Regions from separate parts of the Homo sapiens genome. Here region 2 is linked to region 1. A link means that fine-mapping ties the variant in region 1 to the expression of a gene that starts in the linked region. Tissue or cell type: whole blood. Region 1 holds a variant in brackets; the other region holds the start of a gene. All regions are shown on one strand. Distances are from middle to middle.

Region 1 (10,894 bases):
GGTGTAAGTGGTATCAAAAAACATTCTGAACTTCAAACTGCTTATTTCAGTAGCAGATGCTTGCTGACAATATACAGCTAGTCTAACAAGAGGTGAGATTCAGAAAGGTCAGTGAAGGAAGGCTGGAAAAGTCAGGGGGTCCATGAACAAGAGTAGCACGGGCTAGCAAAGTTGATAAACTCTGATACCAGGACAGAGGCTATTGCCATTGATTTGAAAATATTCCTTTCTAGGCATGGGTTGTCTCTGGGACATAATATACTTATCACCTCCAGAAATAAGAAGTCTCTGAGTTTTGTCCAAAATTAAGAACTGAGATGCGGGGATTGTGTGCTGGTTTAACTCCGTAATTCCCAAATATTATCCCTACTTTGGAATCACCTGAGGAACTGTTTGTAGAAAATACTCCAGGTCCCTACTCTAAGAAAATCTGATTCAATATACTTGATGTGGGGACCTCCAAAAGTTTCTCAATTCATTCTAATGATTCTCAGTTTGGAAAGTACTGGTATGAATACTACCACTAATAACAACAACTGCTACTAGTTATTGAGTACCTGCCAGGTACTAGGTCCTGTTTTAGGTGCTTGACATGTATTGTTAGATTTAATTCATTAGCAGAAGGGCATTGTGAAGATCAAGTGAGACAGTGTAAGAAGTTTCAGTGGAGTTCATCCCCACTCAGAGGAATACAAATGGACAAGGAAAGTCATCTTGACATAGAGACGACAACTTTTTAATTACCTGTAAAGACATGAAAAATGTAATTAACACTGATTAAAGCAATAAAAAGACTGATGATGTCAGGGGTTAAGACCAAAAAAAGGGGAAAATATTGAGGCAGTTAAGGAAAAGTACCCAAAGAGGTAGAGAGCATTTGTCTCTCAAATCTGATCTATTCCTGGGCTGGTATAACAAATTGGCTTCAAAGATTCTGCATAATACCAGAATTGTTCAGAATTCCAAGTTCAACATTCACTCTCCGCCAGTGCCAACTTAGAGTTAAACGAGACCCCAAAAGACCTATACCTTCTAGGTCTAAGGAGAAAGCAATTGGCTTCCTTAGAGTCCAAATCCTTTATAAAATTTTCCTAGACGAACCTGTTGTGGACAAAAACTTCTCAAATCACACTCAGTCTGAGGTAATTCTTACCGAGTATTCACCAACCTCTTAAAATGTACCTGGTCCCCAGCTGCATGTGGTATGGATACCTTACTCATTTTACATATTGTTTCTTGCTTAGCATGTTTGTCTGTCTTACTGATGTCTTGGATCAATTATTCCAGAAAGCAGAAAAGATGCTGTTTAATAGTGCCTAGCAATGGCGTATCCAATTACAATTCAGAAGTGTTCTTTGATAATGATGATATATGTAATAGGAAATAAGTACTATTACATACCACATGAAATTAGGATCAAGAAAGCCTTGAACAAAGTACAGTATCATTCTGGCTAAAATATAAGAAAATTTTTTGAGGACAGAGGTAATAATAGCTGTCTATTGGTCTGATACTCGAGCCCAAGGACATCTAGCTGTCATCTAACAAAAATCAGAGGTCCAACTAAGCTAGAGGTTAAGTGCCAGGTCATTTTCTAGCTCCTATCCATGAAATGAAGGCTATTTCTGATCTGCAATTATGTATTTCTCAAGCTTATGTGCCCTGTGCCCAATCAGAATCATCTCTGTTCCCTCTCCTTCCTCTATTAACCACATCCATTTAGCAACACATCAAAGGAATTAAGCTTTTTAAGCCTGATCCATTTAGAAATGGCCATTCATTACAGCTTAAAACAGTACCTAAGAATCAGGAACAAAAACAGAATTTTTTACATTAAGGTTTATTTTCTCAGGTTGCCACACTTCCTTTAATCACTACTTCCAATATCCCTCCTTTTGTTGTTCTTATGTCTACTTCTGTCTATAAATAGAAGAAAATCTGTGTTCAGTTAGCATGAATTACCATCTTTTATGCAGCTCCTCTTTTTATTCTCAACTCTGGACCCAATAAAATCTCCTTGGCCCTGAAAGATAGTGTCTCTAGAAATGTTACTTCAATTTTTAAAACTTAATCATTTACAAGATAAGCGGATCACTTGAGGTCAGGAGTTCGAGACCAGCCTGGCCAACATGGTGAAACCCTGTCTCTACCGAAAATACAAAAATTAGCCGTGTGTGGTGGCACGTGCCTGTAATTCAGGCTATTCGGGAAGCTGAGGCAAGAGAATCTCTTGAGCCTGTGAGGTGGAGGCTGCCGTGAGCCAAGATCGCACCACTGCACCCCAGCATGGGCAACAGTGAGACCCTGTTTCAAAAAAAACAGAAACAAACAAAAACTTAAGCATTTAAACCACATTTCTGATAAGTATTGAGATAGAATATTGAAGTTACAGTATAATAAGCTTCATTCTATCTAAGAGGCAGCCTTAGAGATCACCATCCATAAAAATGAAACAAAGGGCAGGCAAAGCTTTTACACTAAAGAGGTCTTGTTCATATTACTTGTATTATGGGAACCAAACAACAGTCGCATGAGTTTCCTAATCTTTACAAACATACTTACAAAAAACAAGGCTATAATAAATCCCAGTTTACAAACCCTGTCCCAAATATTTAAAAATATTTTCCTGGACTGAAACAAATCATCAGAGACCTGCATGCCTGGACCGCATGTTCCGGTGTCATTGTAGAAATAACCTTACTAGAATGAACTAAGGTGTTGGCCATCGGGTAATACTCAAGACCATTTAAAAGACACATTCCTTTGTTTTATCCACTGAAAAGACATGACTGCTTTGTGAATGCAAAGAAGTTTCTTTCAGGCCTCGGTGCCAGGAAACATTCTTCTCTGCTGCAACTAGCTTTATATTTGATGGACACTAGTTCCTATAACTAACCACATTACCTTCTCTTTGTGGCCTGCCAGTTTCTCCATGGCCCACTTGTACATGACATTTTGGGGCAATAGCTTCATTTAGGTTACTAATTTCACCCAGAAACAAATTTTCTCATTTAAAGATACTGTACTATGTTTTTTTTTTTTTCATAAATCCTTTTTGGATCATAGTAGGGTAGAAATAAATCAATTACATAATTGTCCTAAAAAAAAAAAAAGGCTACTAGGATGTCTGCCCATACTTGGCTAAAGTACCTCCTTAAAAGAGGAAATGGCCCGCATGGACCAGTTACTTTCCAACAAATTGCAAATCACTTGTAGATTATTTGCCAAGGCAAGAAAGGCTGCTGCTCTAACTTTAGCCCCTACCATTTAATCCAAGGTAGATAGACAACTGCCTTCCACCTTCTCACCATCCCCAAAAAGATTCAGAGTTAGTTATAAAGGTCTCAAACACCTTTGGAACAAGACCCATTAAAACAAACTTACCACCTTAGGCTTATTTTCTTGAGAATCTGGCAAAAGCTATAGACTCAGAAAAGTGTACATAACACAAACTTGTACCCAATTTCTGGGATTCTGGAAGGCCCATAAATACCCCCCAAGCTCATTCATGAGCCTTTAGTCAAGAACTCCTTTCTAGAAAATGGCAAGCCTAGATGCCACCCACTAGAACAACAGAGAGAGAGAGAGAGAGATCCTGCATATTATGTTTATGTAAAAGGTTCAAAGATGGGTTGGGAATCACAGACAGATTATTCGGTAATAAAATATTCATACTGTAATAACTGCCTCAAAATGCCCTGCTTCGCTCATCTTCACTCCATAGTCACTGTGTAATCAGCAGTAAATTCGGCCTCACCCCAGTCTCCTTATCCAGGTTTATTCTTCCTCAGAGGACCTCCCTCCAAATAACATTATTTGTTTGTTGTCTGCCTCCACTGACTAGAATGGAAGTTCCATGAGGGCAGGGGTTTGTTTTGCTCATGGCTGTACCTCTGATACATAAGAGGCACTCAAATATTTCAATAGGTTTTTGGGGAACTAGTGGTGTTTGGTTACATGAATAAGTTCTTTAGTGGTGATTTCTGAGATTTTGGTGCACCCATCACCCAGGCAGTGTGCACTGTACCCAATGTGTGGTCTTTTATCCCTCACCCCTCTCCCACCCTCAAATATTTTTTAATGAATACCCTATAGGACTCTCTACTCTTTATAGAAGGGGTTGACAAACTACAGCCTGCAGGCCAAATCTAGGCTTCCACCTGTTTTTGTAAATAAACTTTTACTGAACTCAGCCATGCTTATTCACTTACATATTATTTATAACTGCATCAACACTACAATGGCAGAGCTTAGTAGTTGCAATGGGAACTACATGGCCTGCAAGGCCACAAATATTTACTATCTGGCCCTTTACAAAAAGTTTGCTGGCCCCCCATAGCATTCATTTGGTTCTTCTTTTCCAAACTAGATTGGAAGCACTCTCGAGACAGGTCTTATACTTCTTTGGACCTAGAACAGAGTAGATGCCCTAAAATAGCTAGCACTTTACAAACACAGATTTCCTACTTCCAACATACATTATTTTTACACAGTTAATCCAAAGATAGTATTTTCCATCATCAATGCATTTCTAGTAAGGCCAGAACTAATTACCTGTGTTTGATGATTTGGGGCAACACAGAGAAGGCATATTGATGCTATCTAATTAGTAAACTTTCTAGTTCAAAACCACAATCATGTAACCTTTAAAATATGAATGCATATTTAACAACTGGAAAGTTCTTCCTGATATCTTTCAGGCAAATAATTTTGAGGTAAGCCATAGTTATTTTCTCAAAGTCAAAAATCACTCTAACAAAACATCTATTTTTATGTCAGGCACATTATAAGCACTCAACAGTCACTGAATATATCACCCTCCCATAAATATTCTGCTCATCGATTTTTGCAAATTACAATTACCTGAAAAGAGACATCAAGATTTATACCCTTTTGCCAATTCATTTAAAATATGCTCAGTAATTCTCAATTCTTTAAAAAGTTATATCCTTTTTGTCATTCTCTGAAAATTTTAATTTGCATAGGTATCGTTTCCAAGGAACTGAAGACTAAATGGAAAAATCCAGGCATGCTACCAAGTCCACTGTTTACTCCAACTACAGAGGTAATCAAACAGGATATTTTCCTATTATTGGATGATATGTCACTGGAAAATAATGTAGCCCATGGAATAAGAACTGAGAAGGGCTAGGAACCTTAATGAATTATCTTTGCTAAGTTATTCTGAATAAGCAACAATATACACAATAATATACAACCATTTGAGAAAACTATTGTTTATTTAGAAAAAAGGTTACACTGGTAGAATTCGGCAGATAAAAAAATTCTCTTTTAAAAATGTCACTGTGAAACTTTTCCAGATGAAAGTTCAGCAATACAAAGCTCCTACAGCTGTAGAATTAAAACAATTATGTTTTGATCCCCCCGCCGCCAAGATTTGTCTAACATAATTACAAGAAAAAATGGCAAGGGACAAGTGATCGCTGGTACCTTTTTCTTTTTTAAACACGTTTAATGTTGTACATGTACTATATAAAATGATTCCTAAGCATTTCATAAGACAATGCTCCCACTGCTTTTAGTGACTAATATTAAGAACAAGCCAAATAATAAATTAAAACAGTTTTAAAATGAGGTAAAATCAAAAGGGTTCAACAATTGTTTATTTTCAGTTTCAAACAATAAAAAGGAAGCATTTCAGAATGGAAATAAAAACTGAACCCAGGCAATATTTAGTTAATCTAAAGTAAAACTCTGTACACAGGTAACCTTATGCAGCACATTGTGCTAAAAGTATGGAACAGTTAACACTTTCAGCCATTACTGAAAATAAACATGTAGAAACTAAGCAACAAGTTAAAATACAGTAATGCACAACTTAACAATTTTAAGTTTTCCACATGGAGCAATAAAGCAGGTAACTGAATAATTTAAGGAGATGCAAATGGCCCTCTTCATTCTTAATTCTCGGCAATTTACTCAGGAAAATAAATTTCTGGTCGCAGCCGAACAGTTCCAGTCCGATCTCACCTGAAAGAAACAAAGTGATTATATTGATAGA[G/C]AAGAAGGAAGGAAGGAAGGAAAGGAGGGAGTAGGGGAGGGAGGCTTAGTCAAAGGAGGTAGGAGAAAAGGAAGGGAGAAGGAGAGAAGGAGAATGAAAGGAGGAGGGAGGGAAGAAGGGAGGGAGGGAGGGAGGGGAGAAGAAAGGAAGAAGAAGAGAAGGAAGGAGAGGAAAAGGTAAGGAGGGAGGAAGATTTAAGAAAGAACAAGAAGTTAATGAGTTCCATCGGTAACAAAGACTTGAGTCCCCAGAAAAGGATGAAATATTTGTGTGTTTCTTTTTGTCCATTCTTAGAATCCATTAAAGATAAACACACTAATGATGACTTAAAAAAAAAATTGAACATTGTGTGCGTGTGGGAGAGAGGGGTGGGGGTAGGGAGAAAAAAATGGAGCAACAAGTAAAACATTCCACAACGGCAAGCAATAGCTTATTAAATAGAAAATGTAGCAAAGAAAAGTAACCTATTTTACATGATCAACAAAAAAAGGAAAATGACATCACATTTTTCACAAGGACACAATTTTAATAGTAACTTATATTAAGATGCAGTGTCTGCTAAATTATAAAAATTGCTTTAAAAATATATTGACTTAATTATACTCATTTCCTTTCCTTTATGTATTGACATTTTTCAAATACTTCATATTGAAATAATTTCAAAACATGATTATTACAACATGTGGCAAATATCTTCACATCTGCCTTCATTCAAATTTTAAGCTAATGCTTAATGCATTAAACTTTATTGATGAAAATACTACATTCACATATTTCTTAAAACCAGGGCTAGAAGGGTCCTTAGAAAATAATCACTTACATGAAATGCTGACAAATAATTTACATACCATTTCGACACAGCATTCTGTTCACACCATGTATAATCTTGATATTATCAATAACTGTGGATACATTTAATGTTGAACTTACAATTTAATACTTAAAAGCCATTGTTCCTGTCCATTAATTGCTGAATGGATAAATAAAATGTGGTACACACTCATACAATGAAACATCATTTAGCCATAAAAAGGAATGCAGTACTGATACATGCCACAACATGGATGAGCCTTGAGAACATGATGCTAAGTGAAAGCCAAACACAAAAGGCCACAAATTATTGCATAATTCCATTTAAATGAAATGTCCAAAACAGGCAAAATCACAGAGACAGAAAGTACATTACTGGTTTCCAGGGGCCGAGGAAGGGAAGAACTGGGAGTGACTGCTAATAGGCATGGAGTTTCTTTTTGGGGTGACAGAAATGCTCTGGAATTAGACAGCGGTGATGCTTGCACAACATAGTGGATATACTAAAAACCATTGAATTGTACACTTTAAAAATGGCAAGTTTGAGGCCAGGCGTCATGGCTCACGCTTATAATCCCAACACTTTGGGAGGCCGAGGCAGGTGGATCACCAGGTCAGGAGATCGAGACCATCCTGGCTAACACGGTGAAACCCCTATCTCTACTAAAAATACAAAAATTAGCCAGGCGTGGTGGTGCACGCCTGTAGTCCCAGCTACTCAGGAGGCTGAGGAAGGAGAATTGCTTGAACCCAGGAGGCGGAGGTCACAGTGAGCCGAGATCGCGCCACTGCACTCCAGCCTGGGAGACAACAGCGAGACTTGGTCTCCAAAAGAAAAAAAAAAAAGTGAAAGGTAAATTTGATGTTATATGAATTTTATCTCAATTGTTTAAATTGCAAAAAAAAAAAAAGTCAATGTTCCAATTAAGAGCATCATGGTATCACAGTATGGCCATTAGGAGAATAAGAAATGGGTTCTCAATCATAAAGGTGCCACGTTACAAGAGGCAAGGGAAATTTTGGTGACACATTTAAGGTCACATTAAAGGATAAAATTGCTGTTGCTGTTAAAACACGTCAAGAACGTCTTCCCCAGGAACTGAAATTAAAATTTTTACTAGAAGCCAAAATCCTCAAGCAATATAATCATCCCAGTAATGTCAAAAGTATAGGAGTTCACACACAAAGACGGCCTATCTACGTCATTAAGGAACTGGTTCCTGGAGGCGATTTCCTCTCCTTTCAGAGAAAGAAGAATGAACTAAAACTCAGTGAAATTTTCATTAGATGCTGATTCTGGATGGTGTATCTCGAGTAAAAAATGTATACACAGGGACCTTGCTGTAAGAAACTGCCTGGAGGTGAAAATAATGTTCTGAAAATCAGTGACTTTGGAATGTCTCGTCAAGAGGATGGTGGTGTGTACTCATCTTCTGACTTAAAGCAGATTCCCATTAAATGGACAGCACCAGAAGCTCTTAATTATGGGAGATATCATTCTGAGAGTGACGCACGGAGCTTTGGCATCCTCCTCTGGGAGACTTTCGGCTTAGGGGGTCTGTCCATAGCCTGGAATGACAAATCAGCAACCACAAGAGCAAGTGGAAAGAAGATACTGGATGTCAGTCTCTTGGCAGTGTCCACAGAGTATTTTAATAAAATAATGCTGAGGTGTTAGGATTACAAACTTGAAAACTGCCCCCAAGTTTACTGAACTTCAGAAAGAGCTAGCTGTCATCAAGAAGAAAGTTGCATAGTGATGAAGCAGTGCCAAACTCAGCCTTCAGGACTCTATTTTCAGCAAAGCAGTATTTTTCTTCTTATTAACATTTATACCACATTACCTGCAACATTCTCCTAAGTGTTTTATTAACTATTTTTTAATATGTACTGCTTTAACCATTGTAAATAAGAAAGTGTAAGTTCTGAATGTAAGGGATCACACAGATCTATCTTTTTCACATCTAGGACTGTTGCTGCTTCTCAAAAATTTTCTACTCCAGGCTCAGTTCATAGTCTGCTGTTCTCCATCACAGACACCTATTGGTGCTATAAGCTGTATTGGTAATATCACATACCACATTTGTAGGACACATCTCAACAGAAGATGGCCTTCCTACTCTGCTGAGACAAGATTATATGTGTGAACGCCATTTTATATTGGTAATTATCTGGACCTCCTGAGTTGTTTGTTTTTTTTTTTTCTTTTTGGCCAGAGATAGGTCCTGTTTTGTTAGTAAGACTGCCATTTCCCTATGTTTCACAATGCCGTCCTATGCACAAACATCCTCAAAGAGTTGAGGCAGCTGATTTTAACTGATGTTACAGAGAGCTGTGATAGCAAGAATCAAGTTTGAAAAGTAAGGTGGTCTGGAGAAAGGAACAGCTAGGGTGGTGATCAAAGTAGAGAAGAAAAGGCAAACATAAAACCAGCCTTCTTAACAGAGGTATGCCTTTATAAAACACATACACGCTTTTTAATTTTATGATCAAATTCACCAAAAAGGTCCTAAGAAATGTTTTAGTAGTTTATATAGATTCTTCATAAAAGAGCCCTCTGGATGGCAACCAAACAATTTTTAAGAGAAACTATAAAATCAAGCCCACCAAAATAATATATTATTTTTGGTTAAGTGTCTTCACTTCACAGGAAGCATCCCAGAACTGCATTCCATGCATTTTTACTAGTGTCTGAAACTGTCAGGATTTTATTCTCATTCTCTCGTTCTTTTCACATAAACCCCAGGTAGAAAGGCATATAAAGATGAACTTGACATTTAAAAAGTCAAACAAATATTTATAAGGAAGAAAGAAGTTATGAGAAAGACATGGGGACAGCCATCCTAAATCCACTTTACTCCTTCATTTACCCTTATACTGCAACCTAGGAATTCTTTATAGCAAACAGAGTTCCTGAGATGTTCCACGTGGATAAAATGTAACAGAGTTAAGACGTGGATTCTGTTGAGCTGAAACTTAACTGCACCCAGGGATGCTTTTCAGGATAATTATGTGTGTAGGGGAAAGACACACTCAGGGCAAATGTTGTATGGAAGCCTTTTATAAGTGCTCATGCCCATGTCAAAATTTTAAAAAACAGCATATAAATGAATATTTGCTCTACCGTAAGTGGAAGAGCAAGGAAATAGAAAATTTCTCCTGCCCTCTTCAACTTTTCATGCCTATGAATATCAGTGCACAAAACCTATACTCAGTATTTTTTTTAAGTATAAAAGTTGATAATGAAGACAGAAATGATTTGTGTCTGTCATTTCAAGCTCCTTACAAGAGTCTAGTATACATTTAATGGTTACTACATACAGACCAAAATGAGAGCATATTAAATCTGCCCTCAAAAAATATGCTGCAGCAAATAAGCAAGCTCTTTTAATCAGTATAGGTTCCCTTCCTATAAAATGGTGTGTTTGGTGGCAAAAAAAGTCAATGTTGCACTTATACAGAGATATTAAATGTTTCTCTGGCATCAATGTGAACATTGATGAGTTCCCTATCCCATACCCTTTACCAATACCTATCGTCAACATCTAGGAATAAGCCTCAGAATGGCAATGCATTCCTAAAACAAGAAATCTTCAGGAGCTTAGGAGGTCAGTTTCCAAGTATGAACTGAAGGGAAAACAAACAAACAAAAAAAGGCTTAGAGCTGGAATTACAAAATCAATTGTCTACAAAGGCCAAGAACGTGATGAAAACAAAAGAAACGAGCTGAGTGGGGACTGACGGAGGTGAACTGTTTTTAAAAAGGCCCTTGCTCTATTCTAAAGGGGGGCAGCACCTAGACAAGTCTAGCTGAAATCAGGACATAATGATGCTATGCAGAAATCAGAACACAATGTTACCAGATGTTCCAATCCTTCAAGAAAAACTGAAATTTGGATTTTGTCAATTCTGATTTTTAAAAACAAACAGATTTTTAAAATTTTGAAATATTGTGTGAGGTTAAGAAGGTGCATTTTGCTGGCGGTGGTGGCTCACATGTGTAATCGTACCACTTTGAGAGGCAGAGGCAGGAGGATTACTTGAGCCCATGAGTTCAATACC
Region 2 (9,316 bases), 130 kb after region 1:
GGAAAACAGACTAAGACTTATACTTAGCTTATGAATACAGGTCGAAATGGGAAATTAAATGCTAAATGAAAACTGAGACATCAAGAAAAGGTTTCAGATAAAGCTTTGGCTGAATTTGGAGCAACTTTGCGAGGAAAAAAGACTCAACCACCAAGACTAAAATTTCTTAGAATGATTATATCCCTTTACCTGGAATCCTCCAAGAAATTCAGATCAGATGGCATGTTCTGAACAACCAAATATACTTAAATAAGTTCTAGAATGTCTAAAATCATGTAGTAGCAGAAGAAGAAAAAGAACAACAATCAAAACATTTGGCAATTAAATTTTAAAACTTTATTGTAACTACCATTAATAAGGTAAGACCTAACAAAACTTTCTAATTGATACCTAAATAAGCTATTCAAACAAACAGATGATATTCAACAAACGTAAGTATTTCAAAATTAGACTAAGTATTAACATGAGGCTAGCATCTTCAGATTAAGAGCTTCGAATATCAATTCTCCATTAAGGTTGCCTGTAACAAAGAAATGCTGAGTTCACTGTGTTAATGATTTCTACCAAAAACAGAATTCTACACTGGATCTACCAGTACATGCAAGTTTATTAGCTTCATCATGGCAAGTTCTACGTCAATATAAAATAATCAAGAAACTAAAACTAATTCCAAAATTAAGTGATTAAATACATATCTTTCAGAATTTGGAAGAGTTTGCATTTAGATATAAGTATTATTGGAAATTACAATTACATTTTGGTAGTCCTCCTTTGCCCTTCTGATCCCTCTTTAAGATCACTTTAAAGGTCACTCTTTAAGAGTTCTATAATTTAGCATTAAAAACATAATTGGTATCTCTGGAAACATAATGGGATATCTAGATATGTGATGGATGGACCATTCAGATAGGCAAAATACAGTTTTACTTTTCTCTCTAATTACCTAATAAAACATTCTTCAAAGTCAAGACCTTCCATTTAATAGACAGTTGTTTTTCATGGCGTACAGTTAAGAATTTGCCCTATCTGAAAGTTATAAAATGCCCCATACATCTCTTATGTTGCTTTCAACACTAGCTGACTACCACCCCCAGAAAAGATTTATGCTGGTAAGAAGTGACAGACAAGAAATGAATTAACAACCTCATGAAATATATCACATTATTTTTAAAAAGATAATTTTCAGTCAAGTTAAAGCTTATCTGCTAATTTATCTTGTTAAAAAGGAAAAATTCACCCAAGGTATAATTTTAAATATTGGTCATATTCTAAACGCCAAATCTATAGCTTCACTAATAATGTGGTGGCACACTACCTTCATTTTTAACATTTCCAGTTGCTGTTTTATATTTCAGAAGCTGTTTTCAGACAAAGGAAAAAGGTTTTTTGTAATATATTTGCACCACCACGTATTCTGCCTAGTAATATGAAAATGCTAACACCTATCTTTAGGAAGACACAAAAACTCCAAAGACATGCTATATGCAACAAAGTTTCATAGAGGGAAAACAGGTCAAATAAACTGAAACTAAGTACTGGATGGTGATGTGTTTAACTATTTAAAATAGCTTATTATGTTACACAATTTTAAATTCTCTTCCTGTAACAGAATGCAATCATAAAACTGACTATACTGATTTGGATCTACTATAATTCAATCCACATTCCACAAGTCATGCAATAACTACATACACGTAAGTTCTAATAACAGGTTTTTTTGCTGTTGTTTTTGGTTTGTTTTTGTTTGGGTTTTTGTTTTTTTTTTTTTTTTAAAGAGTTTCGCTCTTGTTACCCATGCTGGAGTGCAACAGCGCGATCTCCGCTCACCGCAACTTCCGCCTCCCAGATTCAAGCGATTCTCCCGCCTCAGCCTCCTGAGTAGCTGGGATTACAGGCATGTGCCACCACGCTCGGCAAATTTTGTACTTTTAGTAGAGATGGGGTTTCTCCATGTTGGTCAGGCTTGTCTGGAACTCCTGACCTCAGGTGATCCACCCGCCTCGGCCTCCCAATTTGCTGGGATTACAGGCGTGAGCCACCACGCTCGGCTTCTAATAACAGTTTTTAAGCAGCTCTTCAAACATAAGAACTATGACAGATAGCATGTATTATGTAAATATACATAATGTGAACCTAAAATTCCATTTTATCTAAGTATTTCGATCTCCTACATCACTTTTTCTCAAACCATTACCAGTCAGAAGCCAAGCAGAATTTCACCTTATAGCCCTAATACCACTCATGCTAAGGTGGCAGCAATAATAGTAAAACTGTTGGGAGGCCGAGGTGGGCGGATCACCAGGTCAGGAGATGGAGACCATCCTGGATAACACGGTGAAACTCCGTGTCTAGTAAAAATACAAAAAATTAGCCGGGCGTGGTAGCACGCGCCTGTAGTCCCAGCTACTCAGGAGGCTGAGACAGGAGAATCGCTTGAACGTGGGAGGCGGAGGTTACGGTGAGCCGAGATCGCGCCACTGCACTCCAGCCTGGGCGACAGAGCGAGACTCCGTCTCAAGGGGGAAAAAAAAAAGTAAAACTGTCAAAAAACAGTAGCTGAAAGGAGGAAGCTGAGCAATCTACAAACATAACAGCCCCTAAATAAATGAGCTGGCTTTGAAAGTAAACAAAACAATGAACTGCTTTTATCAGTTTTGGGGGATTACCCTAATATCGATGAAGATGATGGTCTGGCTGGGTAACTTCCCATCTTGCCTTCCCCAAACTTGATGGCTATTTGTCAACTAGCTATCAAACTTGACAGCTATTTGTTAACTAGCACATACGAGGATTTGTAAAATGTTCATTATAGTTAAAAACGAAGATTTATCAAATAGCCTTCTCTGACAATTAATAAACCAATAAGCATTCTAAGCATAGGCTGGGGGGGCGGGGCATGTGTTAAACCAAAAGAAATATGAGACATAGTCCCTATATTTCAAAGGCCTCCCAATTCATTACAGTGCAAGAATAAACACACATGAATAAGTCAGAGACCAATTAATTGCTAACCTGAGTGGTACAGACTTTAAGTGCATGAGCTGTCCTGAGAAGTTTAAATATCTAAAGGTTGGAATAATATTACTTTTAATAGCTATCACTTGAGCACTTACTATAAGCCAAGTGCTTTACAGGCATTATTTAGTCTTCACAACAATCCTTTGAGTAGAGTACTTATTATTCCCAATTTACTCAAGGGGAAACAGTCCAAGTGGTTAAGGAACTTACCCAAGGTCACTCAGCTACTTAAGTGGCTAAGACAGCCGCTTATTTAGGGAATTCTAGAGCTCACACTGTTAAGACTTCATACAGCAGTGCGGGGGGTGCGGGGGAGGAAGCCACATAGGCTGGCACTATTACAAGCGCGGGATCCGGCAACGCGTTCCTCGTGTTTCGTTCCAAGTAACGAAGTTACAAAGATTTGAATCTTTAGCATGAGCCACGGTAAACTGGCTACTAGAAATGGAGAGGGGTGGGCAAGGACGACAAAAATGGCTAACGAGGGTTAATTTCATCCAGGGTTGAGCTTTAGCATCTAAAAGCGACCCAGAGAAGGAAATGAGATGTTATTAATATTTGTTCTTATATCTGAGGTTTGCTTTGCTGCTTAAACGACTCCTTCCAGGGGAAGGGGAGGAGGGAGCGCTCTAACGTGGGGGCGAGAAGACTAGGGGTATGGCAAATTACTGTTTTCGGTGTTACGGGGGAAAGTTTCACGACTAAAGGAAACGCGTTATCCTAGGTACTGGAGAAGCTTGGAGAGCTGCCAGAATTAGTTGCAGTCCCAGGATAAAATGGGGTTTAGGGAACATTTAATGACGAAAGTTGAATCCAACCCGAAATAGCTCTAAGGTGAAAAGACGGAGCAAAGAAATGTCGGTGGTTCTTCAGGGAAAGCGGCAATCCCTGCCACACTTCCCCACGGCGCTACGCGAGGCCGGGACAGTCGAGAGACCGCTCCCCGGGAGGGCGAGAGGTGCCAAACCGGGTTCTTCGCGGCGCCCCGGGCTTCGCGGCAGCGGGCGAAGAGGAGGGGAGGGGAATCCGGGACGGTTCGCCCTCCTTGGACTTCAGGCAGAGGAGGCGCCAAGCTCCAAACTGCGGAGTCCAACGGGTGCAGAGTGAAGAAATGGCACAGAGAGAGATGGAAAGTCCGAATTGCCCCGGCTCAGCCCCATAAAGATAAAGGAGCCAAGTGAGATCAAGCGAAGAGGGGGACACAAAAAGAGACCAAGAGGGAGCGCGGAGACCTGCAGGGGCGGAATAAGAGTTCTACTAAGAGGCTAAAGGAAGCCGAGCTACCGCAGGCAGTAGCGATTTCTGGGAGGCCAGGGAAGGAAGGAGGTCCGCGGCGGTAAACAGCACCTCTCCCCGAGTTCGAAACTCCTAGACGACCATCCACGCCCGCCGCCCGGGTGGGGGAGGGGGTACATCTTTCCCCCTCAACCTCCCACTACAGGTGAGAGTGCAGCTGACGCCCTGGCCCGGCCCGGCAGTGCGCCTGCCTCCGGCCCGAACACTCACAATTCGCCTCTCCCTGATTTCTCCCAGTTCTTTATCCACTCTGCGGGAACCACCACAGCCGCGGCCGCCATCTTCCTCTCACTAGTAGCAGAAGCCCGGATGTGTAGCACGCGAGCGAAGGGTCAAAGGGGAGCACCGCCCACGAGGAATGCCGGGAGCTGAGAGTTCGTTTTTCGATTTCCCGCCCCACTTTCCTCTCCACCCAGCGGAAACCCGAGGCAAGGCAGCCAACGACGTGGAGACTCGCGGGCCCCTTTGCGAGGTTACTACACGGGTTGCGCCCTCCGAAGTCTTCGGCCTTACTTCCCATTAGAACAGAGAAATGCCATCCACAGGCCAACAAGTAGACTTCATCTTCTTCCGTAATATCTACCCCTAACCACTAATACAAACACGCATTTTTCAAGCACCTAATATGTGCTAGACACTGGGAATAGAGAAATAATAGTCTTTGGGAAAGCCATAAATATAAGCAAATAAATTACATTACGCCCTGCTGACTGCTGAGATAAAAGAAAATAATCGGGTCCCTCTCCTTCTCCCTCTCCCTCTCCCGTCTCCCTCTCCCGTCTCCCTCTCCCCACGGTCTCCCTCTCCCTCTCTTTCCACAGTCTCCCTCTGATGCCGAGCCAAAGCTGGACTGTACTGCCATCTCGGCTCACTGCAACCTCCCTGCCTGATTCTCCTGCCTCAGCCTGCCGAGTGCCTGCGATTGCAGGTGCGCGCCGCCACGCCTGACTGTTTTTCGTATTTTTTTGGTGGAGACGGGGTTTCGCTGTGTTGGCCGGGCTGGTCTCCAGCTCCTAACCGCGAGTGATCCGCCAGCCTCGGCCTCCCGAGGTGCCGGGATTGCAGACGGAGTCTCGTTCACTCAGTGCTCAATGGTGCCCAGGCTGGGGTGCAGTGGCGTGATCTCGGCTCGCTGCAACCTCCACCTCCCAGCCGCCTGCCTTGGCCTCCCAAAGTGCCGAGATTGCAGCCTTTGCCCGGCCGCCACCCCGTCTGGGAAGTGAGGAGCCTCTCTGCCTGGCCGCCCATCGTCTGGGATGTGAGGAGCCCCTCTGCCTGGCTGCCCAGTCTGGAAAGTGAGGAGCGTCTCTGCCCGGCCGCCATCCTGTCTAGGAAGTGAGGAGCGTCTCTGCCCGGCTGCCCATCGTCTGGGATGAAGTGAGGAGCGTCTCTGCCTGGCCGCCCATCGTCTGAGATGTGGGGAGTGCCTCTGCCCCGCCGCCCCGTCTGGGATGTGAGGAGCGCCTCTGCCCGGCCGCGACCCCGTCTGGGAGGTGAAGAGCGTCTCTGCCCGGCCGCCCCGTCTGAGAAGTGAGGAGACCCTCCGCCCGGCAGCCGCCCCGTCTGAGAGGTGAAGAGCGTCTCCGCCCGGCCGGCCGCCCCGTCCGGGAGGGAGGTGGGGGGGTCGGCCCCCCGCCCGGCCGGCCGCCCCGTCCGGGAGGTGACGGGCGCCTCTGCCCGGCCGCCGCTACTGGGAAGTGAGGAGCCCCTCTGCCCGGCCACCACCCGGTCTGGGAGGTGTACCCAACAGCTCATTGAGAACGGGCCATGATGACAATGGCGGTTTTGTGGAATAGAAAAGGGGGAAAGGTGGGGAAAAGATTGAGAAATCGGATGGTTGCTGTGTCTGTGTAGAAAGAGGTAGACATGGGAGACTTTTCATTTTGTTCTGTACTAAGAAAAATTCTTCTGCCTTGGGATCCTGTTGATCTATGACCTTACCCCCAACCCTGCGCTCTCTGAAACATGTGCTGTGTCCACTCAGGGTTAAATGGATTAAGGGCGGTGCAAGATGGGCTTTGTTAAACAGATGCTTGAAGGCGGCAGGCTCGTTAAGAGTCATTACCACTCCCTAGTCTCAAGTACCCAGGGACACAAACACTGCAGAAGGCCGCAGGGTCCTCTGCCTAGGAAAACCAGAGATCTTTGTTCACTTGTTTATCTGCTGACCTTCCCTCCACTATTGTCCTATGACCCTGCCAAATCCCCCTCTGCGAGAAACACCCAAGAATGATCAATAAAAAAAAAAAAAAAAGTCAACAGAAAAAAAAAAAAAAAAAAGGAAGGAAAACTTTCCAGAAGAGAGATGTGTCTAGCACAAGAGAAGAGGAATAGTCCTGAGCCTGGAGGATTATTTTGCAGGAATCTCACAGGGCAGTTCCTAATGCAGGAGAATTAAAATAGGCTTTTCCTGGTGTATTTCTTGCAAACATTTTGGGCCAAGTGGCCTTCCCACACCCTCACATGAGCCTGCTTCCCTCCCACTCCTCTGTCATCAGGGCATTTCTGTTTAGGAACAGCAGGTCTAATATTGACTTAAATAAAGCAGACTTGACAGAAAAAAAAAAAAAAAGAAAGAAAGAAAATGTGGCACATATACACCATGGAATACTATGCAGCCATAAAAAATGATGAGTTCATGTCCTCTGTAGGGACATGGATGAAGCTGGAAACCATCATTCTCAGCAAACTATCACAAGGACAAAAAACCAAACACCTCATGTTCTCATTCATAGGTGGGAATTGAACAATGAGAACACTTGGACACAGGAAGGGGAACATCACACACCGGGGTCTGTTGTGGGGTGGGGGGCGATAGCATTAGGATATATACCTAATGTAAATGACGAGTTAATGGGTGCAACACACCAACATGGCCCATGTATACATATGTAACAAACCTGCACGTTGTGCACGTGTACCCTATAACTTAAAGTATAATAAAAAAATTAAAAAAAAAAAAAACACACGTTTGGCAGAAAATACAGACAATCCAAATGAAGAAATCCTACCCCACATATGAACTTTAGAGCTAGTATCTTCTAAATATGGCAAGTTTTGTCAAATGAACCAGGTTCATTTGCATTGAAAAACTATTTAAGTTATGTGCTGTATTCAGAACTGGTTCTGGGAAAATGCTCCATTGTTTATGATTGTTTTTCACCAGCTGTATCTAGTCTTCTAGTGTCCTGTCTCACTTTGAAATTCTAAAGCCACCCACTAGAAAATATCCACCTATTAACTTCAGTGATTTCTGCTTGTAAAAACCTTCTGCCGTTTTGAGGAGGATCAAATATAGAAGTGCCCTCTAATCTTTTCATGTTTCCTTATTATGGACAATTTAAAATGTATACAAAGCAAACAGAATGATACAGTGAATCTTCATGTACCATCATCCTTCCTGGAAAACTTTGAAGTCATTATTACAAGACGGCTTCTGTGATACAAGAAGCACTATCTTGCTACTTATGTATACTTCTCTGTGTAGTCTACAGCAAGGACTTTCAACCTGGGTCAGATAATTTTTTGTGGGGATAGGGGGGATGGGGGCCAGGGGGCAGGGGTCCTCTGCATTGTAGAATGTTTAGCAACATCTCTGGCCTTGACTCACTAGATGTCAGTAGCAGCCCCCATACACACACACACACACACACACACACACACACCCACACCAGTTATTACAACCGTTTCCAGACATTGCTAAATGTCTCCTGGAGGGCAAAACAGTCCCCTTTTGAGAACCACTGAGCTACAGTATTCTCCTGTACTGTGGCTTACCTTGCCACGTATCACAGTGATTTCTTCTTCCAAACATTGAACTGTGCAGTATGCATAGTAATCAGTATGTCACACTTGTGGTATGACCTGAGTGCAATGATGCCCTTTGAGGCCTGGTTTTCCCTTCTTCCAGAAACTGCAGAACTATTTTTACATGGTATGATGACTCCTTTAGGAATTACTCAGAGCTAATTGGCTTTTTGATCTATAAGATTGCAAAGCTATTAAATCTTCTGCATCCTTGTTGTTGGCTTGCCTGCTCTTTGCTATCAGCATCTGGTATTATCTCAGCAGCTGGGGGGATTTTTCCCTGGTGATCTCACAAGCTCATGGATACCAATGTGCTATTCAGGGACTGAGGTCTGTGGTGGAGGCCAGGGATTGGGTAGTTTCAATGTTGACAGTCTGATGCATGGAATGATAGGTTGATTTTAGGTTACTGTAAGGTCAAGCAATCTTATAACTTACCATCTCAGTGAAGACAAATAATGGGACCAAAAAGGAAGCACATAAAAGCAAAACAAGACAAAATAACAAAATAATTAAAGAATGAATGCAAAGGGTTTTTTGAGATTTAAAATGAAGAAAAGTTCTTTAGAATAAGCTACTTGATAACTTCTGCATTTTATGCTAAGGCTGTTTATGCCAAACCAATCTACTTGTCTCCTTCCTGTCTACAGTGCTCCTTTGGTAAAAACAAGATCTTTTCTTTTTCTTTTTCTTTTTCTTTTTCTTTTTCTTTTTCTTTTTCTTTTTCTTTTTCTTTTTCCTCCCACTTCAGCCTCCCAAACAGCTGGGACTAAAGGCACTCACCACCACACCCGGCTAATTTTTGTATTTTTTGTAGAGGCAGCCCAGACTGGTCTCAAACTCCTGAGCTAAAACGATCTGCCCACCTCGGGCTCCCAAAGTGCTGGGATTACAGGCGTGAGTCACTGTGCCCCACTGAAATCTAGCTATTTTTAAGGGACATCCCTAAAACACAGGGACACAAGAAGTTTGAAAGTGAAATGATGGGGCAAATACACCAGCCAAATACTAATATCAACAAAAATTAAGCTGTTGTAACTTAATTTCTTTTGTCTTTTAATTTCTTCTTGATATTAAGGTAAATATCAGATAAAATAGACTTTAAAAGAAAAATAAGTCCGGGTGCGGTGGCTCGTGCCTGTAATCCCAGCACTTTGGGAGGCCGAGGAGGGCAGATCACGAGGTCAGGAGATCG

What was found. PIP is the estimated chance that this variant, and not a neighbour inherited with it, causes the effect.
Region 2: it holds the start of THOC2, and the variant in region 1 is fine-mapped to the expression of THOC2 in whole blood (TOPMed, PIP 0.97).

The regions. Positions count from the first base shown.
Region 1 is chrX:123,595,348-123,606,241 of GRCh38, forward strand. THOC2 (THO complex subunit 2) reads right to left here. Exons shown (of 39, transcript NM_001081550.2): 39 at 5,222-5,991. It also overlaps the pseudogene FERP1. Among named protein-coding and RNA genes, the nearest start is that of THOC2, 130 kb to the right of the region's middle. The variant G/C (reference allele first, on the strand shown) is at 6,023.
Region 2 is chrX:123,728,428-123,737,743 of GRCh38, forward strand. THOC2 (THO complex subunit 2) reads right to left here and starts at 4,625. Exons shown (of 39, transcript NM_001081550.2): 1 at 4,525-4,625. The coding sequence starts at 4,595. RefSeq lists an enhancer at 4,561-4,640.